Regions from separate parts of the Homo sapiens genome. Here region 2 is linked to region 1. The links come from fine-mapping of genetic effects on gene expression. A gene starts in region 1. The other region holds a variant in brackets. All regions are shown on one strand. Distances are from middle to middle.

Region 1 (11,530 bases):
GGCCATGAGCTCTCCAACTCTCTCACTCACTCCTTCTTGCCTTTAGTCTTTTGGTCACCACTGCTCCACACACAGATGCCACAAATGTTTAGACAGGGCTGAGCATCCCAGCAGAAAGCAGAGGAATCTGAGAGGAGGGCTGCTCAGGAGTCTGCTACTATGGACGATGCACAAATCAGACTTTAAAGAACACAATGAATGACAGCTGGACTGGGCCACAAGGTCAAAGTCTACTTGTAGCAAGTAACACCATCCAAACAAACCCAGTAGCCACAGAAACGCCCGTGTGCATTAAAACAAAAAGCCTGGAGCCAGACGCCATGACTCACGCTGGGAATCCCAGCACTCCGGGAGGCTGAGGCCAGAGGATGGCTTAAGGCCAGGAGTTCAAGACCAGCCTGGGCAACTGGGCAACACAGTGAGACACGCCTATCTCAAAAAAAAAAAAAGAGGTGGCTGGGCACGGTGGCTCACACCTGGGATTACAGTGTGTGGCTCAGGCAGGTTGATCACCTGAAGGTCAGGAGCTTGAGTCTAGCCTGGCCAAAAAGAAGAAGTGGCTGGGCACAGTGGCTCACGCCTGTAATCCCAGCACTTTGGGAGGCTGAGGCAGGTTGATCACCTAAAGGTCAGTAGTTTGAGTCCAGCCTAGCCAACATGGTGAAACCCCGTCTCTATTTAAAATACAAAACATTAGCCAGGCGTGGTGGCAGGCCCCTGTAATCCCAGCTACTCGGAAGGCTGAGGCAGGAAAATCACTTGAACCCAGGAGGCAGAGGTTGCAGTGAACCAAGATTGCACCAACGCCCTCCAGCCTGGGCAACAAGAGGGAAGCTTCTCAAAAAAAATTAAAAGGGCCGGGCACGGTGGCTCATGCCTGTAATCCCAGCACTTTGGGAGGCCGAGGTGGGTGGATCACAAGGTCAAGAAATCAAGACCATCCTGGCCAACATGATGAAACCCCGTCTCTACTAAAAATACAAAAAATTAGCCAGGTGTGGTGGCAGGCACCTGTAGTCCCAGCTACTTGGGAGGCTGAGGCAGGACTCCGTGTCAAAAAATAAAAATAAGAAGAAGACAGCCTAACCCCTAGCCAACTGTTCTTATGGCCAAACACCACTCAGAGGGATAAAACGCCCAACAACCTCGGAAGAAATGTGTCTGTCTGGGCTGAACAAATGACGTCCTAGAACCCGACAGTTGAGGGACTCACGGCAAGATCACCATTCTGTGTCTCAGTCTCTCCATCTGGGAAATGGGGACAACAGACCCTCCTCCCAGGGTGACTGTGAGAGTAAACTGAGTAATGAACACAGTTCCCTGGTCACCTGGCACCAGGAGGTGCTGTGACCAGTATCATTAGTGTCACCACCTGCAGACACTCACCACCCCTTTTCAGGACCGTGGAAGGATGCACCCACGCCGTGTCGCGAATGGCTTGGTACAGCCATGGTCGAGGCATGTTTGTCTTTCCTCCCCACCTGGAAGGTGACTCCCCAACTCCGCCCACCTGGAAGGTGACTCCCTGATTCCATCTCAAGCTCCAGCATCGTGACCTAGCTGTACTTCTCACCACATTCTCCTCAAAGTCTTACGTGTCCAGTGTATTTATTCATCAAAACCTGCTAGGTGCTTATCCTACTCTCGGTGCTGGGTGGGGTGCTCAGGACACAAGGGTGACACAGCAGAGGTCTATGCCACAGAGGCTCCCAGGCACACAGGAGAGACAAACACGGGAGTGCCAGGGCATTCCAAGCAGAAGGCTCTGCATCGACAGGCACACCAGTGAGAAAAGCCACAGACTATGCAGGAAAAATGACTGCACTGTCAGGGACATAAAGCAGGGACTGAAGATGTGGCAGGAGCTGCTGGCAGGAGCCAAACCCAGGACCTCGCTCTGCAGGCCATGAGGAGCTGTGGAAGAGACTTAGGGACACCTGGCTGCCCATGAGCCCCTAGACTGAGTGCCTAGGTCTAGGCTCTTGACCCAGCATCTACAGAAGGCCAGACTCAGGGGAAGTGTCCAGGGAAGGTTCCTGGATAGAGTCAGAGCAGCCAGAGGCTGCCAGATGTTCATGGGGCCAGGCCAGCAGAGGAGGAGAGAAACAGAGGTGACCCAGCCAAAACTCAACCTCCTCCAGGAAGTCGTCTTGGATTTGCCAGCCTCCCACAGCCACCTGCATTCACGGCCTGTGCTGCTGTGTCCAAACATTTGTTCTACCAGATTTCTGCTGCGGTCCTGTGATGTATGGGGTCGAACGGTATGAAAGCAGCGGTTCAGTCGGGGGAAGCACTCCAGTACTAACAAACTTCAGCTTTCTTTCAACTCAATACTGTGTCCACACTGGGAGTATCCTAAGCAACAATCCCCACCCCTGTCTCACAGGCACTAAAGATAAAACAGAAAACAAGCAGATGAGTGACAATGACAAACAAGAAATACTGTAGGGAGAGCGGTCAGAAAGGTGAGCTCAGACATACCGGAAGCGGAGCTGCCCCCAAGCCAGGAGCGAGCCAGGAACTAAAAGAAGAGGCAAGTGTGCAGCAGAGGAAAGAAAGGGCGCCAGGTGTGGCTGGAAAGGCACCTGGCAGGATGAGGGGCGGAGAAGCACCGGCGGAGCAGCACGCGCGAGGCCCATTTTGAGCCGCACCACACCGCTCACAGAACTTCCTGTGATAAGCAGTGTTCCCTACCCGCGCTGCCCCACACAGCCGCCACCAGACACGTGTGGCTACTGAGTGTCGGACATGTGACCACTGGCACGGAGGACCTGAATCCTTCACGTTAAGGACAATGTAAACAGCCACACATGCCTAGGGGCTACCACACTGGACATGGCAGAGCTTCCAGAGCAGGAGGAGTGCGCCATGAGGCAACAAACACGAGGTCCCTGGAGAGTTTCTGCGGGGGCAGCACAGATCAACATCACCTGAAAGTCCCTGGTGGGGATGTCGCAGGCCCCAGTACCCAGGAAGCACCTTCTTACAACTTGGAGAAGGGACAGAAAGGCATGGAGAGGCAAGCACACAGGAACGGGGTCCCCAGCTCAGGCTCGAAGGCGGGCTCCGCTCGTTGAGCTGCAGGGCACCAACCCTTGCACCCAGCAAGTAGGCGCTGGGGCGCTCCCCGGGACGGCACTGACCTCCAGGCGCAGGCACCGGCTGCCCGGCCCAGAGCCCACCGACCTGGGGTCTGAACAGCGCGCGAGGACCCGCCGAGGGGCTCATGTGCCCGCGGGCCGGTCCCCGAAATGCGGCGCTCTCGCGGGGCTGCGGCTCAGGGTCCCTGGCGCCCCTGGGGTCCACCCCCGGCACGGTCCCGCCCCCTCCCCTCCCCACCGGCGCGGCCCCGCCCCCCGCCCGGCCTCCCGCAAGCCCCATACCACGCCACGCCGCGGCCCCCGCCGGGCTCCGGGCCCCGCGCTGGTCCCCGGCCGCCTCGCCCTCGCCGCCCCACGCCCGGCCCCGGCCAGGCCCCAGCCCCACCGCCGCCGCCTCACCTGGGCCTCGGTGGCTCGCGGACCGCTCCGGGCGCTCACGGCGGGCGAGGCGGGCGGGGCGGGCACCCAAACATCACGTGACGGCCCCTCCCGCCGCCGGCGTGCGCGCCCCCTCCCGCACCAGCCAATGGCCGCCGGTCCCGGACGCGCGCGGGGACTACCCGCCCCAGAGGCCCCGGCGCGGAGCCGGAAGCGGCGCGGACGGCGGTCGGCTGGGCCAAGAGGCCTCTGCGGGTGCGCGCGCGAGTCGGCTGTCCTCACTTGCCTGGTGGTGGGCCTCCGTTTCCCCGTTTCCCCGTTTTGCATATGGGGATGACGGCGAAGGTGGAGGTCACGTGGAGGGCGGCGGCCCGGCGCTGAGGCGCTTCGGGAGCGGGCTCCGCCCAGCCCAGGCCGAGCCCGGACCTCACACGGGCCAAAGCTGGAGCTTCTGCGGGGCTGCGCAGGCGGCGGGTCTCGGCCAGGGCAGGGCCGGGCACCTGCGCGTCTCGCGCTGCGGGGACGGGCGTTGGGCCCCAAGTCAGGCTGCACGGGCTCCGCGTGGGGCCGTGCTCGGCCGGGGGCTGGCAGGCCCCGCGGGGACTCCGGACTCCCAGTGTCACCAACGAGGAAACTGAGTCTCAAGACATCTGAGGGACCTTTGCCCGAGGTCGCAGCCCCTCCCTGGAGGAGCTGAAGTGCAGAGTAGGGAGCCCCTTGCGGAGACCCTCCTGGGACCTCCTTCCGCAGGGGCCTGGGGCGCCTCCCTTTCCCTGCTCTGCCTGCGGGCACTGAGCTCCCGAAAGACTCCAGCCCCTCGCTCTCCCGGTGACCTGCTGGAGAAGACACCTGGGAGGAACCTGCGGACAATGGGTGTGTGTCCTTGGGCCGCCAGGGTCACCTTTCAGCCTGTTTCCCCAGAGGTGAACCAAGAGTCACACCCAAGGCAGGAGAGCAAGAGTGATGAGTCCGCTGCACCTTCTCCGGCAAGCGGAGGTTCTCCCGCCGCCCTCACTCTGTGATGCTTGCTGTGCTTGCGAGGCCTACGCCAAAGCCCTGCGGGCAGCCCTGGGCTCCCGCGGACAGCCTTGCTGAGCTCCTGGGAAGGAGGCGTGCCCTCCCCTTCCCCCACCGCCCCGCTGGCTGGGGTTCTCTGCAGCCCAGGACTGTGCATGTGTGCGCACACGGGTTCTGTGAACACGAACACAAAAGTGTGCTCGTGGACACTGCGTGGTACTGTGTGCACACAGCGCACGTCTGTGAGCTGAGGGAGTGTTCCTGGACACCAGGTGCAAGTGCACAAGTGTGTGTATGCTGGCACAAGTGTGTGCCCAGGCGCAAACATGGGAACGGTAGTATATGGCACAAATGTGTGCACACATGGGTGGGAGGGAAGAGGGGCACATGCCCACCAGCATTCCTGGGCTGGTGCTCAGGCCGGCCTGTCCTGGGCCCACCCACGCTCCTTGCCTTGGTGTATTTCAGTCTCCCCTGGGCTCCCAGGAGGCAGTAGTGTGTGCCTGTCTTGCAGCCTCGCCATGATTTGGACAGGGCTTCACTCTTCGGCTAGGACAGCTAGAGTGCAGGGAAGCCGGCTCCTAACCAGGGAGGATGCCCATGACTGCTGACCCCCCAGCTTCCACTTGAAGGGGAAGGTTCGCCAGGACCAATGCCTGTCTGAGAGCTGTCAGTCTGGACTGAGGATGCCGGGTGCCTGGCACGGTGCCCACCTCCCCTTCCGTGGCTGGCGCTGTCTGTCTGGCCGCCACCTCACTCAGCCTCCTCTGACAGCTCCGTGTTCAGGTGTGCAAAGGAGGGGAAAGTGAAGCCCTTTCCTCCCAGGGCAGACCACCTCCAGGAGCCGCTTTCTTGACCATACAAGGCGTATATGGGGCTGTTTCTGTGCCTGGACACTGCAGGGGGAATGGTCTAGCGTGGGTAGGAACCACCAGAGGAGGGGCTCCGTACCTGTTGGCTCCTCCGAAATCTGGGATGAGCCCGCCTGAGTGCCCCACAGCAAGTCAGGGAAGGTAAACCTCTCCGTGGAAGAGCCAGGAGCCCACTCCCTCAGGCTGAGCCGATGGGGAGGGGGAGGAGGATGCTAAGGGGTCCTCAGGAAGGGATGAGGGAAATAGCCAATAGCTGCCTGGGCCTAGGGCCGGGGCTCCCCTCCCTTCCCTCATCTCTGCCCCTCCCTGGAAGAGGTCATCACATGACCTCGGGCAGCTCTGGGCTCCCTCCTTCCTCCAGAGAAGCAGGACTCCCTGGGAAGAACTCTGGTCCCACCCCTTGGCCAACCAGTGAGACCAACAGGGTGAATAAGTGGGATTGGCCCCAGGACGCTGAGTTCTGTTACCTAAGGGGGTGGGGGTTGCCTGGTCCTCAGCTGGCACCCCCCAAATTGGATCTACCATTCCAGGTCCCAGAGGGAATGTGGGCAACAAGGTTAGGGGGTGGTTCCAAGGCCTTCGGAAGGAACGTTGAGGCAGCACCCACTAAAGCCAACCTCAGAAATGCTCCCTCTCTGAATAGTAGCATGGACTTCTCAGGGTTTAAGCTGAATTTCCAGGTCAGTGTCAACCTATGGCTTTGTCGTGAGTTTCCCCACCCTCCCACCCTTCCTCTCTACCCTCTGCTGCCTGGCTTCAATGTCACCTGCTCAGGAGACCATCCCTTGCTCCCCTGCAGCCCCTGCCTGGACAGGAGAAGGCCTGTGCACCTCCTGCTCTGCTCCCAGCACAGCTTCTGCTCCAGCAAAGCCCACGGGCACTCAGTCCTTGATTCCTGCACCCACCAACCCCGCCGAGCCGCCCTCACTATTACCCAGGCCTCCTTTGTCCCTTAGCAACAGAACCCCAGTTTTGTTCAAGGCATCAATGTAGCCAGCCTCACCAGCAGCTGGGCCAGCTGTGACACTGTTTGCCCAGGGGATGACTGCAGGAGGCACAATCGAGCCTCCTGGTCCTTTGGAAGGGGCAGCTGTGGCCACCCACCTCACTGACAGTCTTCCTTTCTCCTGGCTCCAGCCTGAAGTGTGGGCACGGCATCCCGAGGACAGCAGCCATGTGGCCAGCAAGGGGCAGGGTCCCAAGCTGAGGATGTGAGCAGCTGCCTTGGTGCCCCAATGGCACCGTCAGACTCATCACCATGGGGAGAACAAGCCCCTGCTCCCTTTATGGGTCTGCCTCATTGGATTTCGTCAGGTTTTCTGTAACTGAAGCCAGTGCCACTTCCATTGTAGCTGATTTGGGCTCCTAAGCTCACGGGAGTGGGACATCGTTCTATTAGCTGCGTCCTGCCCCTCAACAACGATGGCTCCTTGCGGGCAGGCCCCAAGGGCGCGTCATGGCCCCACACACCTGGAACACACAGTGCCCCACACCTGGAACAGCCTGGAGGAGCTTGTGAGGCATGAGGGCGCGGGAGCCACACTCTCAGGTGCCTGTTTTCCACATGTCCCCATGCAGCCCGGGCTTCCAACCACATCTTAAAAAATAAAAAGACGAGGAGGAGAAGAAACTTTGGTCCTAACACCAGACTAAGCCCTGTCTTGCTGTGTGATGCTCAGCCTGAGGCACACCTTCTCTAGGCTTGTTCACCAAAGCCGCAATGCAGGGGCAGAGCGGTCATGAGGCCTGCCCAAGAGTGAGGTTGGTAAAGGGCTGGGCAGAACCAAGGGCATGGGGTGTGTGGGAGGGTGGCGGTCCATTCCCTTGTCACCCACGCAGAGGCAGTGTCATGAGGGGACACGTGGGAGTCTCTGGGAAGGGCCTGACACAGCCCCAGCACAGGACAGTGGTCTGACCATTCAAGACTCAGTCTGCGTCATCAGAGACCAGGCTCTTAGAAACCAACTCCATCCTGATGTGCATAACAGCCTCCCAAGGTGTTTAACATGGAGCAGGAGTGACAAAAAGAAAAATGAAGTAAAAGAATAGAAAATCCATCAACAAGCATGTGGAGTGCTGTTCTTGCTGATGCATCGTCCAGGAAAGGACACTTGCCACCCTTCCTGGGAATGCTTCCCACTCCCCGACCCCCTCCTGGCATCCATGAGCCTCAGATCAGCAGGTGGGGACGTGGGGACAGGAGGAGTCTCCGCCCTGCAAGGGTGCAGTCCCCCCAGATTCCACAGCCACTGCTAGGCCTGCTGCTGGGCACAGCTGCCCGTTTCTTTCCTGCCACAGTTCATCTCATCGGCAAAGCCTGTCTCCTCTTTCACTCATTGAACAAGCTTTACTTCCACGCCGCGCAACATGCTAGGATCTGGGGATAGCATCCAGTTTGATTTGGTTGCTGATGACAGAACAACCCAAATAACAGTGGCTTGATTGACGGTTGCTTTTAATGTGATATTTTTATGTCCAGGTAGGCAGTAGGACTGGAAAGGTGGCCTCACAATCATCAGGACCCCAGGCCCCCTTAGTCTGGTTGCCCCATCAATCCCCAAATAGGCCTTTTGCCTCACGGTACCAGACGGCTGTTGAAGCTCCAGCCATCATGTCTGCTTTCAGCCAGCAGGGAGGAAACATTGGCATACTCTTCCCAACCTTGCAACCCGTGCTTTTAGGGATGCTGCCTGGATTTTGCACACCTCACCTCTGCTTACAGCCCCCCTTGGCCACAGCTGGGTCTCGGGTACTTCGAGCTGCAGAGGAGGCTAGGACATGTTCCACCCCAGGGGCTGTGTTCTCAGCTAAGAGCTGGACTCTTGCACTGAGTAAAAAGGGAAGGTTGGGGTTACCTGGCAGTCTCTGCATCAGGACACAGCCCTGTGCACCACCTGGCAGGCAGGCCAATGTCGACAACCTGCAAATCACACACGTGTGTGCTGGGAACCTGTGCTGAGGCCCTGCAGGAGCGATCAGGGGCGTGGGGGCACCCGGGGGGATGGGGATCAGGGAAAGCCCATCAATGAGGAGACCAAAATGGGCAAGTCTTGAGGGGTAGCGTTTCTGGGGGGTGAGCTGTGAGTACCATGGCGAGAGAGGAGCCAGCAACGTCCACGTCCCACTCCCCTCTGTGGACACATCCTGACCCCTCCAGCTGCTTGGGGTCGGGAGGGTTCAGACGGCCCATCTCCTGGCTCCTCCTCATTCCACAGGTGAGAAACCTGGTAGGGGAGGGACACGTACAGGGTCTCAGACCAGCACCGGGCCACTCTGGGCCCAGCCCATGTCACCTCACCCCAGGCTTGGTCTCTGCCTCCTCGTCATGGCACCTCCCCTCTCCACACATTCAGCCTGTAACAGCCACGAAGTCATAGCCCTGTGGAGTAACCAGTGAGCCGAGGGGACTTTATTTTGTTCTGCTTCCATTTTTTTTTTTTTTTTTTTTAGACACAGGGTCTTGCTGTGTTGCCCAGCTGGAGTGCGGTGGTGCAATCAGCTCACTGCAGCCCTGACCTCCCAGGCTCAAGCAATCCTCTCATCTCATCCTCCCTAGTAGCTGGGACTACAGCTCATTTTGTTTGTATTTTGTGTTTTTTTATTTGAGACAGGGTTTCGCCATGTTGCCCAGGCTGGTCTCAAACTCCTGGACTCAAGCGATTCACCTGGCTCAGCTTTCCAAAGTGCTGGGATTATAGGCATGAGCCACTGCACCCAGCCTCTGAAGGGACTTTGAAAATGCTATCATTCACCACTTCTTTTACAGTCAACAGCACACGTTTTGGTTCTGAATGTGTGGTTCTTGTGTGTCCGCTGTTTGGATTTAGACCTGGTACCCAAATGAGACCAGGACACTTCACGCTGGGCAGTGAGCATCCTAGACATGCACGCTGGGCAGTGAGCATCCTAGACGTGCACGCTGGCACCTGGCTTCTTGGTGGACACCTTAGAAACCATCAGGAGCCACTGGTGAGTGGGGCTGAGGGCATGTACCCACGTGTGAGAGCCCGCGATGAGAGGCATAAGCATGAACACGATGGTGACTGTGGCGGCAGCTGCTCCCTGAATGCTCCCCTATTCTCCCCCTGATGCAGCCACACTTCCGACCCCTCTTGTCGTCTAAGGCCCATGTGGCTGGCCCCGTGCGGGAGTGGGTGCAGCACGCCCTGCCATCCTTCCCTGTACATCTGCCTGTGGCCAGGAGGCAGGGCCGCCCAGCAGCCTCGGAGCCACAAGAGGGAAGGAACAGGTCCCAAGGCTCTCGTTCTTGTCCTGGGAGTCACTGAGTTGAGTGGACAAGGGTTGAGTGAAAAGAGAAGGAGAGAGGGGAAGGGGCCGCCTGCTGCAGGCCCTCAGCCTCCCCTTCCTGCATTCTAGACGTCCACTTGGGGCGCTTGAGGAAGGGGCATCGTGTCCCAGGAGAGAGGCCTCATCCTATTGCGGAGAGGGGGATGAATGGGGAGCTTGTGCATGGATGAGGAAGACGAGCAAATGACAGGGGGATCATTTGAGTGTCAGGGAGGGAGAAGGCGGCCACCTCTGCCACCTCGAGTGGGCAGCCCTGGGCCTGTGGAGGAACAAGACATGCCCTCATCCCCCAGGCTGGGGGCAGAAAGAGCAGAAGACTGCGCCCTGACCTTTGGGTTCCCCTGGGGGAGACCTGGTGAGCGCTCAGGGCAGGGCCGAGGGCAAGCGCTCTCCCTCCTGGCCCTGCCTCTGCAGCTCTTCAAGGAGCTGAGCCAAGCCGTCCCTTGAGGGGCAGGGGCTGAAGAAGCCCCATGCTGGGACGCATTTCACTGACACAGCCCACCTGTTATCCTATGAGCTGCTCTGCAAAGGCACGTATTATTCTCTCGGTAATGAGGGTCGGTTTAGGGACAGACGCACTTCATATCCCTCCTCCCTGCTCTGTGCTCCCTCCAGCTGAGCCACCAGAAGCTCCAGCCTCCCAGACAATCCCTGGGGCCCTTTCAGCCTGGAGGCAGGGAGTGTGGTTTGACCCCTGGCTCCACCGTGTGCCTGCTGGGTGGCCCAGCGCATCAGCCTCCTCATCGGTGCTATGCACACCAAAAAGTTCCCAGCTCCGTGGAGCCAACCTGAGGCTTGAGTGAGTCGATGCAAGAGAAACCTGGAACAGTGCTGAGCACAGGGCCTGGCCCTCTGGAAGCCCTGGAACATGCGAGCTCATGCATTGTGTGTGGGTGAGCATTTGCCATTGACATCTTGCATGGATGCCCAAGCACCAAAGCCAGGCATGGGAGCTAAGGAACACAGCATGATGCCCTCAGGGTATCTCGGAAGTTGAAGAGGTGGCAGACCAGCCAAAGGGGTCACCGCTGGACCATGAGACTGTTGTTAGAAGGTGATATGAGGAAACACTACGTTCTGTCCAGGATGTTGGAGAGGTTTCCCAGAGAAGGAGCATTTGGGCTGGGTGTTGAAGGATGAGTAGGAGTTTGCCAGGCAGGAGCAATGTGGCTCTAACATGGCTGCTGGAGAAGGTTGCCACATCCACCTCCTGCATCACTTTCTGCCCCAACTCCTATTCCAGACATGGCATGTAGGGACTTGCCCACACCTCCTCCCACCCTTGGCCCCCACCTCTCTTCACATCTGCACACAAATGCACTCCCAGATACTCACATACAGTCACAAACATTCTTATACTCACAGAAGCTGGAGTTGACTCCGCTGTGCTGAAATCAGCCTCCATGCCCACTCAGAAACCCAAAACACCCCGACTTCTGCACACAGGGAAACACGGTAATGAGATGCTAACGAGCTAAGGTAAAAATCAGGGAGAACAGCGTTTTGCAAAATCACAACAGTTTGTACTTCCAGGGGCTCCCTCCCCAGCAAGCGTGCTGCCAAAGCTCACGACAGTGCTGTGTGTGGGCTGAAAGCAACTGTGGGGGGTGGGGGGGGCACCTCCTAGGTTGTTGATGGAAGCAGAAGGGGTCCTCGAGGTTGCCGGGGTGTGCCCGGCCCCAGGCCCTGCCCAGCAGTGCCCCTCTCTGCTTGGCTTACACACCTGGTCTCCCTGGGAAACTGCCTGCTTGAGGCCTTCTGGCGCCATGCGTCATGCCAGGCTTACATCCAAGCACCTGCCCAGTGTCCCAGGCCTCTGACTACAGCAGCCAGAGCTCCTGGTTCTCCACACGC
Region 2 (16,539 bases), 130 kb before region 1:
TTCTATTTCTTTGGGTTCATTCTGTTGTTCCTTTACTTAAAAAAAGTCTTTTTAATGTCTATTTTAATTTTCAGCTTTCTTTGGTAGTATAAGCATTGAAGGCTACTAAGTTTCATTGAAGTCTCCCACAAATTTTGATATGCAGTATTTTCAATAGTATCCAATCATGTCTTTGTACCTAGCTATTAACTTCATATCCCTTAATGATTTCTTCTTTGACCTCTGAGTTATGTAGAACTGTTTTAAAATTTCCAAACATACAATGACCTTTTTATTTTTTGCCACCAATATCTAATGGCTGCATTTTTCTAACTGCATTTTCTAGTGATTGAAGTGTTCTACACATTACTGATCTTTTGAAATGTTTTGACTCTTGCTTTATGACCTAGTCCATGGTCAAAATCTGGAAATATTCCGGTTGTACCTGAGAAAATGAGTGCCCTCTATTTGTGTAGCAGAGGGTTCTGTAAGCATCCGTGAAGTTCAGCGCTGGTGTTCAAATTTTTAGGTTTCCTGCTGACACTCCCCATCAATCTCTAAAACAACGTGCTGAAACCTTCCGCTGTCCTGATAGATTCATTGATTTCCTTCTGTAATTCTACCCACTTTTGCTTTATGTATTTTATTAAGTGTAGAAGGGTTTAGGATTTTTCATCCTCCCGATGAGCTGAACCCATTCTGGAGTGACTCCAGTGTATCCTTAATATATACTTTTTGTCTTAAAGTCCATTTTGTCTAAAATTAACATTGCTACTTAAGCTCTCTTTTGCATAGCTTTTGACTGGCAAATCTTCACACCTTTCCTTCCAATGCCCCTTTGGTCCTATGTTGGAGTGCCTCTCTTGTCAATAGTAAAGGTGTTATTTTTTCCTCCAATCTGACAGTCCTTAACTCTGATGAGCCCTTTTAATCTGTCTGCATTTATTTTGCTCACTGGACAGTTCCAAATGCTTCTTTGTGTTCTCGCCCTGTCCTGCATTTTTCTTCTGTGTTATCTGCTTCTCCTTTTCTTTTTGTTGCATTTTTTGCCTTCTCCTTTCTATTCAACATAGGTTTTTGTTTAATTGTATTCTTATTCCATTTTTACTGATTTGGAAGTTATATACTCTAATACTCTTAGGTTACCTTAGTCTTCAGTTTCTTATTAACTTTCTACTCAGTTTGTGTGTGTGTGTAGTTCTATGAAATTTTATCACATATGTAGATTCATGTCACCAGCACCATGTTCAAAATACAAAACTGTCCCACCACCACAAGGCTCTCCTGCAGCCTTTTACAACTGCACCCTACCCCACTCCACTTCCCTAACCCTTGACAACCAGCCACCGCTCTGCCCTCCATCCCTGTGATCTCGCCCTTTTGAGAATGTTACAGAAATGGAGTCACAAAGCATGGCCTTTTCGAGACTGGCTTTTTCATTAAGCACAATGCCTTAAGAACCGTCTGAGTTGCTGGCATTTCCGAGTGGGCTCCTTTTGTTCCTGGGTAGAACTCCACTGTGTGGCCGTGGCAGTCTGTTCACCTGCTCACCTGCAGAGGCACAGCAGGGCTTTTCCACTTTGGGGCCATGGCAGATAAAGACACGATGAACATCTGTGTGCAAGTGTTGGTGTGAACATGAGTTTTTCTTTCTCTAGGATAAATGCCCAGGAGTGAAACTGTTGTGTTGTATAGTAAGTGTTATGTTTACATGTTGAAGAAACTACAAAACTGTTTTTCAGAGTGGCTGTAACATTTGACATGCCCAACAGCAGTGCATGAGCGAGCCATTTCTCCTCACCCCCGTGCCTCTTGGTCACTTCAGCGGCAGGCAGTGGCATCGCGGTGTGGGCTTAATGTGTATTTCCCTCATGGCTACTGCTGTGGGGCATCTTTTCATGAGCCTACTTGCTACCCATATATCTACTTTGGTGAGTGTCGGATCAAATTGTTGTGCACTTTCTGATGGAATTGTTTTCTTTCAGTTGAAATTAGAGAGCTTTTTATATATTCTGGATACATCCTTCATCAGACATGTGATTTGCAAATATATTCTACTAGTCACTGGCTTCTCTTTTCATTCCCTTAACAGGATCTCTTGCAGAACAGAAGTTTCCAATTTTGATGAAGGAACCCTTGAGCTTTTTTATGATGTACAGTTACTAGCACAGGCTAAAATTAATCAATATTTAACTCCCCTGCAAATACAAGGATCTCAGAATATTTGGACAATTCTTCACCTTTAATATACTATCATTGTCCAGTAGTTCCATCCTTTGTAAAAAATCTATTCCACAAATTAGACATTCTAGTAATTATGGACTTTTTAAAACCTTAATGAGGATTTGGATTTACTTACACATTTACCAATTTCTTGGTTCACTATTCTTCTTGCATTACACATACTCTTTCTGGGATTCCAGTCCTTCACCTTGAAGTCCATTTTTTGGAAACCCCTTTTCATGAAGGCCTGTTGGTGGTAAGCCCTCGCAGTTTTTATTTGGATAGAATGTCTGTATTTTGCCTTTAATCTTGAAAGGTAGTCTTGTCAGTTGCAGAATTCTAAGTTGACAGCGACTTTCTCTCAATACTTTGTAGATACTACCATTTTCTGGCTTCCTCTGCTGCCAATGTAATGTGAAATGTCGGCAAATTTGTCATCACTTCTCCCTTCTTTCAAATTGCTTGAGGCTTTCCCTTTCTCTGTGCTGTTCCACAGTTCACCCATGATGTGCCCAGGAAGGTATTTCATGTATGTGTTCAGTATGCTCGTGCTTCCTGTGTCTGTGGAATCACACATCACATCAACGACCTCTTCACACACTGCTTTCCTCCATTTCACTGATCCTCCTCTTCCGGGACTCCAAGACGACATATGTTGCATCTCTGGTTCTACTCTCCCCATCTCTTCATCTGTCGTAGTTTCTATTTTCTTACCTCTCTTTGCAACATTATTTCTTTAGAAATCTTCGAGTTTGCTATTACTAACTTCATCTATGTCCAGTATGTTGCTTAACCCATCCACAAAGTTCTTCATTTCTAAAAGCCATACTGATATTTCACAGATCGGCCTAATCACTTTTTAGAATCTTATTGCTCATTTTTGTGATTTCATCTTTTTATTTTTAAAAATATTTCACAGAAATCATATTATATGTCTGATTAATTGCAACAGCTAAAATCTTTTGGGGTCTAAACTTGATATTTTTGCTCTTGTTGGATATTCCTCCTGGTTTTCCCTCAACGGCTTTCCCCATTACAGACCAAGTGATTTCCAACTGGAGGCCCAAAAGATTCTTCTTATTTTGTGGGTATCCCAAAGGCCTGACTAGGGGATCTTTTCTCCAGAACCTTCTTCTTGGATCCAGGATCCACAGGTGGACCTGGTGCTTATTCAGGCTCAGGGCAAGAACCTTCCTCATTTCCTGAGATCCTCTAGGGTGGGCAAGCTGGCCGTGCTCATTTGAGCCAGATGGATGAGGCACCTGAAAACTGTCCTCACTCACCTGGAATGCAGCACTGCGTAGGGAAAGGGCATGAACTTGGAATCCAGACACCTGGTTCAAGGCCTGCCTCTAGCACTCTCTGTGAACCTGGACATGACCCTGCAGCTTCAACACCACCCCTCCAATACCACCCTGGGCTCTCAGTCTGTCTGTAAAATGGGGGACCTAGTGAGGGGACCCGGGCTCTCTAGCTCTGACAGGAACCATCCCTGCCACTCCCCCCGGCCTCTTTCTAAAACACACCTTGGAAGGCCCTGCAGGCAAGCTCCGCCACAGAATGCCACATCCTATTTCTCATCACAGACCCACCATCCTCCTAATCTCTCCTGGTAAACATTTGGGCTGCCTGGGGGATGGAATGCAAGAAGCACAGTGTCCAAGGTGAGCAGTGTGGATACGAATCCCACTGAAATCCCATCTGGGATAGGTCGGCAACCCTCAAGGTCTTCCCGGGTGCCTCTCTCACACGCTTGCTAAGAGCATTCCTTCCTCAAAAGCTCTGATCCTGACAGGTTCCTGGTGAAGCCAAGACCACAGTCTCCTTCCTGGCGAACCTCAGGCCACCCCTGGCCCACATCCAAGAGAAGGGGTTTCCAGGCCCAGATCTGAGGGCAACACTCCTGGACCCTCCTGGTTCTCCTTTCATCCAGAAACACCCTTGCCCTCAGGGCCAGGCATGGCCTCTGCCCTCCCTGCGTGCCACCTGCCATTCCATGCCCCCACTGGATGATGGAGCTTCATGGACAGCCATCTGCTGTCCTGGCCATGCTCCTGCCTGGCCTCTCGGCATCTGAGCAGCTCTCAGGAAACTGTCCTAGAGTGCAAAGGGCACGTGTGCACTGTGGAGACACATGGACCAGGACTTACCCATTCTGCCCCTAAGTTCTCGAGTCCCTGCTCCTCAGCCACAATGCAGAGGTGAAGCCGGCTCTCCTAGCTTGGCCCTTGGTCTTCTCTGCCTGAGGTACTTCTGGATCTTCCTGCCCCTCGCTGGCTGCAGTGATTACTGCCAAATCGCCTTGGAGGCCTCTGCTGTCCGTCCTGCAGGGAAGCCCCCGACACTCTAGACTGTGCAATCCCAGCTCTGTCAACGCCCCAGCTTGGCAGATTGCACGCTGCCTACCCCAGCATCCAGTCCCTTCCGTCTTAGTAACAAAATCCTGATTTGGGGCTGAAGCCGTGTTTTCCAGCTTCTAATGCAACGAAATGTGGGCATCTGACTAACTCCCAGTCAGTGGGCTGAGATGCAGGCAGAGATCTCCTTCAAGGGAGGGTGTGTGACCTTCCTCCATTCCTTCCCTACACCCTGCTACCTGAAACACAAGCGTGATGGGGGGAGGCCTGCAGCCATCCTGGGCCATGAGGACCACGGCAGAGAAGGGAGCAGAAAGACACCTGGACCTCTGAGGACTGTGGCCCTGCCTTGCCAGCTCCAGGTCATCAATGTCGGTGACGTAGGGGCCATGACGCCTATCTACTCTAAGACACCCTATTCTCTGTTTCCTACCAAATGCAGTTACACTGATTTTTAACTGATACACAAAATAACTTTCATCAAATATGTACTGACTTGCTTAGTATACGTTTTCTGTAGCACACGCTAAGCTCTGGAAGAAGAGGCCTCAAGTTTGCCTTGGTTGTTTCTGTATCCTCAGCACTTAGTAAGGGCTCAGCCCAGAGGATACTCCCAGAAGATGCCTGGACTGACCAGGGTCAGGGCTGGGGCCAGAGCTTAGTGTGTAACTAGGATCAGGCTCAGTGTGTGATCAGAATCAGGGCCAAGTCTGTCACCAGGATCAGGGCTAAGTCAGTGACCAGGATCAATGCTCCATGTGTAACTGGGGTCAGGACATAGTGCAGGAGCAGGATCAGGGCTCAGGGTCAAGGCTCAATGTGCAACTGCAGTCAGGACACAGTGTGGGGTGAAGGTTGGGGCTCAGCTAGCACCAGAGTAGAGGCTGTGTCCAGGTTAAGACTGTAACGCAAGACAGAAAACACACACAGCCATACGAGGCCACTGTCAGCCGTGCTGGGTATCTTTATTTATTAAGCTTTATTTTCTGTAGAAGCAAGGTTTTGCTATGCTGTCCAGGCTGGTCTCGAACTCCTGGCCTCAAGTGATCTTCCTGCCTCAGCCTCCCAAAGTGCTGTGATTACAGGCATGAGCCACTGTGCCCAGGCCATGGTGGGTATTTTTAATGGACAAGAACCCAGAATGAAGATCTACAGAGGCTTCCTGGAGGTGGTGGGACTGAGGTCATCTGGTTTGGCAGGATGGAAGGCCAGCTTTCCCAGGGTGGAACCATCAGAGTGGAGGCCCCGCCCAGAACCAACAGCAGCACCATGCGCACCCATAGAAGGGGTAGCCTGGAGGGAGGCCAGGCGTGCGCAGAAGGCAGCTGGACATGTGGCTACACCTCAGGTTCTTTCATAGACAAGTTACTGACACATTGCTGGCTCCAGGGGAAAACGCAAAACGAGGAAAAGGCCCCTCTCCCTGCTCTCAGGGATGCTGTAGTCTTTTGACTCTCGGCTGTGCCAGAGCTTCCCCGGAAGCTCCTGGGACCAGCATGCCTCCCACTCAAGCCAGTCAGCCAGCATCTTGCTCCTGGGACAGGCTTTGGGCCATGGGAGCCAGGCAGAGGCCCCAGACTAGCCAAGGCCCGGGCTGGTCCCACCTCCCGCTCCTGCTCGCTCCCGACGGCTGCCTAGGCTGGGGGGCTGCAGACTGTGCCCTGCCGCGCAGGGACTGGAGATGTGGCAGCCCCGCCAAGGGATCTCCCAAGAGTCAAAGGAGGTAATGGAGGAAGAAGGATCTGAAGACGCAGGGAAGTGCCCAGGCCCCCGCAGGGAGGCTGAAAGCAGCGGTGCCTGCCACGCCCGAGAAGCAGGCTCCAACTCACGTGCTCGTCAGCAGCCGCACTGCTGCCTGCTTTGTCATTTTATGCTTATGTAAAAAAATACTTTTTGCAAGAAAAATCTACAGGTACAAAATGTCATCCCAGCCCCATACAGTACCAAGTAATATATAGGCATATATATATATATATATATATTTATGTATTTATAACAGAAAATTGGATAGAAATTATTCCAGGCATATGGGATGTGGTTCCCCTGGGCCAGAACCACGTAGGGCAGAGGAGCCCTGCCCTCCAAGTGTGCATGCCCACCAAAGGGACAGGGGCTTTCAGGAGTCACACCAGATCACGCTTGGGACCTTTTTAGAGCCTGGCTGAGCCACCCTTTCCAGAGTTCCAGTGAGCAGGGGGCCCCTCAGTGCATCTTCCCCACCTCCCCTGCTTCCAGGGACGCTGGGCTGCAGACTTCGCAGCTGCTGCCACATGGGGTTGGAGCCTCCAACAGCATCATCCCTGAGTAGACCTGGTCCACTGAGTCCCACAGGTCGGCTCTCTGCAGCCTTTCCCTGCAGGTCACCACCCTCTACAGGCAATGGCAAGGACGCGACATCACAGGTAGACAGCCCACATCCTCTCATCCTTCCGGTCTCCTGGACTGGAGTTGTCCCGGTGCCCTGGAGACCCAGTCACTGCCACCTCTCCCCTGCCTGGACTCAGCAGGGGAAAGACTGGAGGCCCTGCTCCTGCCCTTTGGCTCTGCCAGCACCCCCGACCAGCCCTATATCTCCTCCTCCACCTTCAAGATCATCCCTGAGAAGACCTCGAGCCCCGAGTGGGTGCCCTTGGGGCTGTCCTGGGAGCCTCCAGCAGGCCCCTGGGCCACTCCACTGGCAGGACTACCGTCCTGGAGTGAGGGTGAGGCTTCCCGGGTAGGGCGTGCTTCCACCAGCCTCTCGAGGGTCCGGTTGAGGGCCTCCACGCCATCGGCCAGACGCTGGCTCTGCTCGGCCAGCCGCTGCAGCAGCAGGTTTTGCTGGGCCATGAGTGTGCTCTGCTGCTGGGCCCAGGAGGACAGCAGGGCGCCCTGCTGCCGGTGGGAGTCCAGCAGC[T/C]GCTGCTCAAATGCGGACGTTTCAGATGCTGCCGCTGGGGTCCTCCTGGAGGGCAAGGGAGGTGCTGGCGCCGAAGAGGGCGGGGAAGGCTGGAAGGCCCCCATGAGTGTGGTTGCTGGTGGGGTGGAGGCTGGGGAAGCAGGTGGGGAGGGTGAGGAGGTGGGTGCGTGGAAGACTCCTCGTAAGTCCAGGGGGTCAGGTTCAGGCAGGCTGGGCCCTTCCAGGGACCTCAGGGGCAGCCACAAGCAGCTGGGGGTCTCGTCCTCCTCATCAGCTAACAGAGGGAGACAGGAAAATGTCAGCCTGCACACCCAAAACCCAGTGATCTGGAGGGTGAGCAGGGTGCAGGGAGAGTGCCCATGTGAGGCCTCTGCACCTGGAGCTGTATGGGTCTCACGATGCTCCGTCTGCAGTGGGAGTTGCACCCGTTTGAGAGATGAGGAAACAGACCCAGAGAGGTGGGCACATTTACTCTAGTAGTGCTGGGACTGAAGCCACAGCCTGTCCAAATGCAAAGCCTGCGTGCCCACTCATCACAGCACCACTTGTATTCATCCTCCCACCGACTCCCCTGTGCTCCATCCGCTCGTCCGCCTGCCCTCTGGTCTACCCGCCATCCTGCTACCCAAGTGTCTATTCCTCCACATAGACACGCCCACCACATCCACTCATCTGTCCACCTGTCTGTTCATCACTGTCCAGCCAACCCCTTCCAACCTCCTCTTCCTTCTATTCATCCATCCATCCGTCTACTCACCCATTTATCCATGCTGTCTGTCCATCCACCCAGCCACTCACCCATCTACTCCTTCCTCCTTCCATCTACCCATCCACCTGCCCGTCTACACCTTCCTCCTTCCACCTAGCCACCCGCCCATCTACACCTTCCTCCATCTACCCATCCACCCGCCCGTCTACACCTTCCTCTTTCCATCCACCCACCCGTCTACACCTTCCTCCTTCCATCCATCCACCCGCCCATCTACACCTTCCTCCTTCCATCCACCTATCCACCCGCCTGTCTACACCTTCCTCCTTCCATCCACCCATCCAACTGCCCGTCTACACCTTCCTTCTTCCATCCATCCACCACCCGTCTACAGCTTCCTCCTTCCATCTACCCACCTGTCTACACCTTCCTTCCATCCACCCACCCGTCTACACCTTCCTCCTTCCATCCACCCACCCATCTACACCTTCCTCCTTCCATCCATCCACCCGCCCATCTAGAGGCCCCTCGCAAGCGGGAGCAGGACATTCTATGCAGAGGCGACTTCACAGAGGCCTCATCCCTCCTGACACACCGTGGGGAGGGCCCCTTGCAGGTAGGAGCAGGACATTCTACGCAGAGGCGACTTCACAGACACCTGGTCCCTCCTGACACACCGTGGGGAGGGCCCCTCGCAGGCGGGAACAGGACATTCTATGCAGAGGCAACTTCACAGATGCCTCAACCCTCCTGACACCGTGGGGAAGGCCCCTCGCAGGCAGGTGGGAGCAGGACATTCTATGCAGAGGCAACTTCACAGATGCCTCATCCCTCCCTGATACTCCCTGGTGGACCCCCTCGGGAACAGGAGTGGGACAGTCTATGCAGAGGTGACTTCACGGCCGCCTCCTGGGCCTGAGCCTTGCCCACCTCCTCTGCAGTGTGTCGGGGGGGCGGTGCCTGCTCTGCCAGGACTGAGCCCACAGGCTCACTGGGAATGCGGCACGGCGTCCATGGCACAGGTGGCTGGCCCAGTTGCCACTGCCCTCCTTTCCTCCTCCTCCTTCACCTCCTCCTCTTCCTCACTGTCCCATCGTCCTCCTGCCGTCCCAGGCATCAGCGCTGCTTCTGACCAGGTGATCCCAGGGTGCTCAGGAGGGGTCATCTTGCTGGCTGGCTTTCCTCTTGAAACAAGGCCTTCTGCGTGGTGTGGCCCTGAGTTTCCAGCGAGTCCACCTTGCCCGTCACCAGGCGTCACCTTCTGCCCATCACCTTCTGCCTCCTGGAGGCCCCTGGGCCTAGCTGCCCTCAGCGACTAGAGGTGCTGGGCCAAGGGCTGAGGCCAAACAGCCCAGAGCTGGCGCCAGGAGACCCAGCCCCAGCCTTGCCTCTGACCTCATCCTGCAGGTGACCTTGGCACAGCCTCTCCCAGGTCTTGTCTCCCGGCCTGGCGTTCACCAGCTGTCAACAGGGACTGACCCTTGGTGACCTGAACCTTCTGAGTCTCATGGCCCCCGACAGAAATGGGGAGGCCCAAACTGGGATCAGCCTCCCCGTTACCACACACTCCCACAGTGGGGGTGCCCGGGCTGGGTCCCACTGGGGAAGCTCAAGGCAGCCCTGGCCTTTCCCTCATTCTCCACCCAGTCAGGCCCCTGCGTGGTTCCAGCTGCGGCCCCCTTTTCCTCTTGCACCCCTGAGGCAACTGAGGACCCTCTGCGGGCACAGCTGTGATATCCCAGCGTCCTGGGGATGTGGCTCCTCTCTCGTCACACCTGCCTGTGATGTCCTGGGCTCGTCTGGCTGCTCCTGGACCCTGGCCTCACACCCACTGCACCATCTCGTCTGCCAATACTGCCCCTGCTCCGCCCTCAAGAGTGTGTGCTCTCCTGGCCCCAGCTGGCCCAGGGGCTTCTTCTGCGCTCCCACCGTGGCCCATGCCACCCTCACCTTGCTGGACTTAATGTCCAGCCTGCCTGGCCCCTGGGACTCCTTGAGGAACAGGCTCTGGTCATCTCTGCCCGTCAGGGCCAGTGGGGAGCACCAGGCCACAATGGGGACAGAGCCAGTGAGGGGAAGACAGCGGCTGGGCCTCCATCTCAGCTGGGCCACAGTCTCCAGCCAGCCTGACCTGTCAGGTCTTCTTGTGGTGACCACAAGTCAGCAACAAGGCCCAGTGAGTGGCTAGTCCTCAAGGTAGCTCCAAGTCCCACTTCAAGAAAATAAAGGCCTGAGCTTTCTTGTTCCCTCTGAGCCACTGACCTGCCCCAACCACAAAGTCCCCTCTGCAGTTCCCCGCCCCAGTATGGACACTGAGCTGCATGTCAGCATCTGGCACAGGAGGTGGAGCGGGAAGGCCCCAAGGGCCCTCCCCTCGGCTGCACCCCGGATCCATGGGAGAGGGCGGCGTGGTGCATACAAGAGAGGAGACGGTGCCGACCGCTGTGGGCACCACGCAGACCACTGCTGCCGCAACCCCGCCACTCCCAGAGCCCTAGGGCACGGGCAGCAGACTGGTTCAGAGGAGGCCTGTGGGCATGCCCCTCCCAGGCACAGGGCAGGGCCTGGGCCCCTCCAGACAGACGGAGGGAGGGTTGGAGGATAGGGGACGGAGGCCGGGCCGGCCGGGCACTGTGGCCCTCACACGGACTTACTTGGTGCCGGCTGGCTCCAGCCAGGAGCTGGCGGGCTGCCTCCGCATGCGAGGACGCAGCCTCAAGGCTGGCTTCAATACTATCTGCAAATCAAGACAACAGAAGGCAATTACAGATGGAGGCCCAGCCGCCCCCGCCCTGAGGACACCCCCCAAAGGCAAGCCCAGGGAGCCTGAGCCCAGGGCCTGCAGAGGAGCAGAGGCTGCAGGGATGGGCGCTGGGCTGCCAGACGTGCCGAGGGCTCCGCGTGGTGTGGGCAGTGGGCAGCAATGACATTAGAACGGAGGCCTGGAGGTGGCCCAGGGAAGGGGACTCCTCAGTGCCCACACCAGGTGGGGCAGGAAGAGTCCACTCAGGAAAGGGTGGGAGTGGCAGGCGGAGGTGAGGGCTGGGGTCAAGTCCTGCTCTGTCATGACCTTGCCTGGGCCAGCCCCTCCACTCTGTGGCCACGGCCCCCTCTGAAGGGGCAAAGCCCCTGCCTTAACGTCTGTGGAGTTGCGACGCGGCTGATGGAGACCGGGTCTGCAAGCACAGGGCTCTGGTTTGCCACACGCACTGGCCCTCGACTCAAGCACAGGGAGCTGATCAGAAAGTTGTGCTGCCGTGCGGGGATCACGGGAGATGGTACCTGGGAAAAGCCGGGCTCGGTGGCTGCAGCAGTGCCACCCAGGGAAGCCACATCAGCAGGGCCCACGGGAGACACCAGACCAGGGCCGGGGCAGCCCCAGGGATCCGGAAGATTCCATGCTCAGCATTGTCTTCCACCCAAAGGAAGGACACATGCCACCTGGGCACCAGGAGCGCAGGCACAGCCGGGGTCCTCAACAGAGCCACATGCAAACACGAGCAAACACGAGCACGGGCAAGCCTTCTTCCCGGAGGGAGGTTCCTTGCAAGGCCTGCCTCCAATCAGGCAACTGGAGAAGAGCTTGGGAGGCAGGAGTATCTAAACAAACTGTGCACCTGCAGTGCCTACCAGGGCACAGACCTGAGCTGACTTGAGCCTCAGGGGTCTTAAGGCCTGGGATAGAGAGGCCATTACAACCACAGGGACTGCTGCCAGGCACAGCCTGGCACGACTGGCTCTGAGGGAGGAGGGTCCTCAGAAAGACAAGGCCACTCCCCACCGTCCCAGCAAGGACTCCCTACTCTCATCAGGGAACTGTGGCCCCATCTCTGCAAGCCCCCTGGGCAGGAGGTGGAACCCATGAGCCCTGCCTTCAGAAGCCCCCACCCAGGCCTCACAGGGATCCTTGAACCCTTGGTCACCAGCTCCACCCCACCCTTGCCCCCAGCGCAGGGCCCTAGTGGAGCCGCAGGCACTCGCAGACACACCCTGATCGCCGCATCTGGGGGCTCCTGCCCTAGCCAGGGAGGGGAGAGCCAGGCTCCTGCACAAGGAGCCAAAGCCCAGAGAGCGGGTATGGGTGACGGCCTCGGCCGCTCCTGGAGCAAAGCACCCCTTTGCTCACTTGCAGACAGCCCCCAACTGAACTCTGCTCTCTATGTCCTGCCACATTAGGGTCACGACCCTCTGAGCCAATGGAGGAGGAGAGGGAAGGAAGATGGGGCCAGAGGTGTGACGGATCCCCCCACAATTGCCACTCAGGAGGGACCAGCCTGCCAGGGAGGAGGCGCTAGCCTGGGCCCGGGCAATGCCCCGCTCACGTGCAAAGGAGCCACCTTACACCTGCAGTGGTAACAGCCTGGCCTCGCTTCTGTTGCTGAGAGGTGAATGTGGACAGTGGAGAGCATTTGCCAGCAGAGACAGGAAGGCCATGGTGGTCTGGGCTAACACAGGTGGTGCTGGACAGGCCATGTGCCCTGGCTGGACACTTTCTCTGCCCCGTGACCACACGCAGCCTCAGCCAAGCCCTGGACCCCACCCTTGGACTCAGCCTGTGCCCAATCCTGCTCTACACCTAGCCCTGGCCCTGGGGACTCTGATCGTAGTGTGTGACCTGGAGGCCCACCCTCAGAATGGGGACTGATGTCCTGCTGCTCCAGGGCTGCATGCACCGGCCACAGACCCAGGGCGGTCCCAGGGGCATTCTTAGCCAGCATGGCACTGCCCACATTCAAGACACCTCACACAACCACTGCCCAGCTCCGCAGCCAGCAACATCTCCCTCAGCGCCCAGGCTGCCAGGTGGGCACGCCATGTCCTGCCCCGGCGCAGTGCACAGAGATGCACAAGGGGAGGGGGGCTGCTCCCGGTGCTGTGCGGCCGCGTGTTGCTCGTGGGGTGAGGACAGGTTTGGTGCGTGGGACCTGTGGTACTGAGCGACACTCCAATACCTCATCAGCCATCAGCCCTGGGCCCAGTGGCTTTGTCAGGTCTTGGAGGCCCCCAGTCTGTGAGGTGAGCCCTGCAGAGCCACAGGCCCTGGGCACCTGCTCCTCCCAACACAGGGGGTGCTCCACGGGGGCCCCTTGCACATCCCCTGACTCCAGGAGTCCAAGGGATACCCAAGCACTAGGCCAGAGGCCTCCAGGGGCCAGAGAGAGCAGCCTTTGGGACCGCCCTCCCCAGACACTCGCAGAGCAGCACACACACCTCAAAGGAAACTGCCTGCCCAGTGCCCTCAGGGCACAGGGACCCCTGTGGGAGACCCCCCTGCACTGGGTCAACTCGCTGCCCCCAGCCCCACAGCCGTGACCAGCCCTGCAGGCCTGGCCCTGCCCAAACCCCAGGCAGTGCCGCTGCAGAGCGGAAAGCATGGCCGGCTCGGGGCAACTGGGCCTGCAGCTGGGATGCCCCCACCCTGTCCTCAGGCTTGGCAGCCACTTTCCTACTTCCTGCCTCTGCGCCCACAAGAGGAAGTCTGGCCCTGTCCTAAGCACTCTCGCTTGGGAATTCAACACGTCAGTTGCTGTCAGCAGCAGGGCAGGCCACTCAAAGCAGCTCACAGGCACCAAAGACTCCCGTGCTGCAGGGGAGCCCAGCGGCCTGGGGACCTGGAGTGGCTGATCCACCAGGGGTCACAGAAGTCGAGGCTGGGTCTCAGTCTAGGGCAGGGAACCACAGGGTGAGCAAACCTGAGTTCCTGCAGCCTCCAGGGCTGAGGACTTGCAGAAAAGGACTAAGCACCTGGGCCACACCAGTGCCACCCCTGCCAGGCCCCTCCTTCTCAGCCCCACACCACATGTCTATCCTTGCCATGAAGCACCCCCAAACCAGGTCTGCCTCTGCCCATAGGACCCTTGGCTGCAAGAATCTGCCCTTCAGGAGACAATGTGGCCTCAATGGGGGTGGATCCAGCCATCCCTGGCCTGCACAGGCCTGAGAGGACCCAGATCCTCCTCCAGCCCCACCCCATCAGGAGGCCCACTGACCAGGCCCATCCCCCAAGCCCCACCACAAGGCCTAGTGCCCAGGCCCATCGCCCAAGGCCCACAGCCCAGGCCCCTTGTCCAAGCCCAGCCACAGGGTTGGCTGGGTCTACATGCGTCTCCCAACCAGTCCGGCCCACTCTGCCCATGGGTCCCAGCCTCATGCACCGCTGTGAGCAGGAGCAGCTGAGGATGCCCCAGCGCTCCAAGTTCTGCCATGGCTGCCACTGGGGGCGTTTGAGGCCAGCCCCTGCCTGTCCTGTGAGGCTGGGTCCTTCTGTCCACTCTGTGGCCCTCAAGGAGCTGGTCCTGCTTCCGGGGCTTCGTTCCCAAAGTCCTTCCAGCAGCTCCCAGGAAGGGGAGGGTCCAGCGGGGCTCTGCTTCGAAGGGTGTGCCACCATATGCGGAGGACGGCGAAGGAGCTCCTGGCACGGTGTCTTGAGGAGGAGAGGAGGTGCGGTGGGAGGAGGCACGGAGGCGGCAGGAGGAAGCACGGAGCCAGCATCACCCTCAGAGCCAGCGTCACCCTTGGAGCCAGTGGCAGCTGCGGGCTGCAGACGAGGCCTGACCAGACAGAAACGCCTGGCTTCCGGTGGTCCCTGGAGTGGGCCCGTGGGCTCGGAAGGGGGCACAGCGTGCCTGACAGGCTGAGAGTCACCGGACAGCACCACGTGTGGGGCTTCCAAGTGGGCCCAGAGGGAGGGGCCTGCAGAAGGAGGGGGAGGCCACTGCAGGCCAGAGTGAGGCACAGCGTGGGGCGGGGAAGAGTCAAGCTGGGGCCCAGGCTCCTCCCTGGCTCTGCCCAAACTCCTCAACGTGACCAATGAATGGACAGGTCACCTGCTGCTCCCTGGGAGCTATGTCAAGGGCCAGCTGGCTGGAGGTGCATATGGGCTGAGGCTCCTCCCACCTGCTGGCTGGCCTTGCCTTCTCATGGTAGCTGTACGCTGGGGCTCTGGGGCTGGGGGAGAGCGGAGGGAAGCCCTCCTTCTTCCCAGACACCCCTGTCTTCAGACCCTGGGGCCAGCTGGGCCCTGCTGCCCTGCATGGGAAAGTAGGGACTTCTCCCTGCTGGGACCCACTGGTTTGGAAGACCTGGCTGCCTAAGGACAGCCGTGCTCACCGCTGGACTGCATCTGGAAGGGGAGGGCTGCCCGTGGAGAGGAAGGCCAGGCCGGGACCCGGGGCCAAACAGGCCTCCGGCCACACGACACCAGGCGGGAACGGCAGAGGCCAAGATGGGGGCCTTGGAGGGCACCAGGGCACCCTGGGCTGCACCCGCTGCTGCTGCACGTCGGGGAGCTCAGGCCTTGTCTCTGCCCCTCACCAGGCACTGGTCCCAGAGGCCACCTTGTGACCGCCTCCCCACGGTAGCGCTCACCTCTCTACAGTGACTAGGACCCAGCATCCCATCTGGACACCCGGTGGGCACGGCTTGAGGTGGCGTATATGGTCGAGCCCCTTGATGGCACAATGCTTGGCAATGCAGGGAGGACCCTGAGCTGGAACCGCAGCCCTTCCACTACCGAGACAGGCAGAACCCTCCCTGGCCCCGACCCTTGGTTTCCCCACCTAAAAGAAGAGATGGGCCAGGAGGGTGGCGGGCCATCTCCATGGGCCTCTGGGTCTCCCTCGGAGGGTCTCCCTCTTGGGAGCTGGTGCAGAAGGCTCAAGCCCACTCGCCGGCCCTGCTTGCCCCAGGGCAGTGTGGTCCGGGGGGGCGGGCTGTGGGGAAGGCCCACTTACTTGGCAGGGGCTCCGTGGTCTGGCCCTCGCCTTGGGGACCGTGGGCAGAAAAGGTCTCTGCCACCATGCGCTCCACAGGTGTGAGGAGGAGGCCGGGGGCGGGGCCGCCCTCCGCCAGCTTCTTGCGCACAGCACCTCGCAGGTCCCGCCACTTGTGCTTGAGGTCCCCCAGGTCGCGGCGGCAGTAGCCCAGCGCGTTCACTGCCTGCAGGATGCGGCTCCACACGCGGTGCTTTCGGGCAGGTGTGCCCCGCAGCGCCCCGAACAGCAGCGGGTAGTGGCGCCGCACCCTCTGCACCAGCACCTCCGTCTCCTGGGGGCTGAAGTTGGGCTTGCGTGTCTTGGTGCGGGAGTGGGGGCCCGGCCGCAGGGGTGTGGAGCCCGGCCCGGCACCCAGCAGCAGGGCTGCCGCGGCCGGCTCGGGGCTGCAGCTCTGCTGGCAGATGGCTTTGCTGCTGCTGGACCCTGGAAAGGCACCAGAGGCTGAGCAGGGGGCAGAGACCCTGGGGAGAGCAGCCAGGTTCGGGGTCACAGGTCATCACAGGCCCTGCATCTGTGCACAGCGGCCAGGCCTCGCATCGGCACCCAGCATAGGCAGCCTACATCCACTATACAGGGGCCCTTCTGTCTCAGCTACTCTCT

What was found. PIP is the estimated chance that this variant, and not a neighbour inherited with it, causes the effect.
Region 2: its variant is fine-mapped to the expression of TSNARE1 in skeletal muscle (GTEx, PIP above 0.99).

Annotation. Positions count from the first base shown.
Region 1 is chr8:142,399,604-142,411,133 of GRCh38, forward strand. TSNARE1 (t-SNARE domain containing 1) reads right to left here and starts at 3,579. Exons shown (of 14, transcript NM_145003.5): 1 at 3,501-3,579. RefSeq lists silencers at 3,138-3,277, 3,418-3,987, 4,428-4,477 and enhancers at 3,709-4,484, 10,233-10,911.
Region 2 is chr8:142,263,963-142,280,501 of GRCh38, forward strand. It overlaps TSNARE1 (t-SNARE domain containing 1), which reads right to left. Exons shown (of 14, transcript NM_145003.5): 12 at 10,819-10,901. Among named protein-coding and RNA genes, the nearest start is that of LINC00051, 74 kb to the left of the region's middle. The variant T/C (reference allele first, on the strand shown) is at 7,456.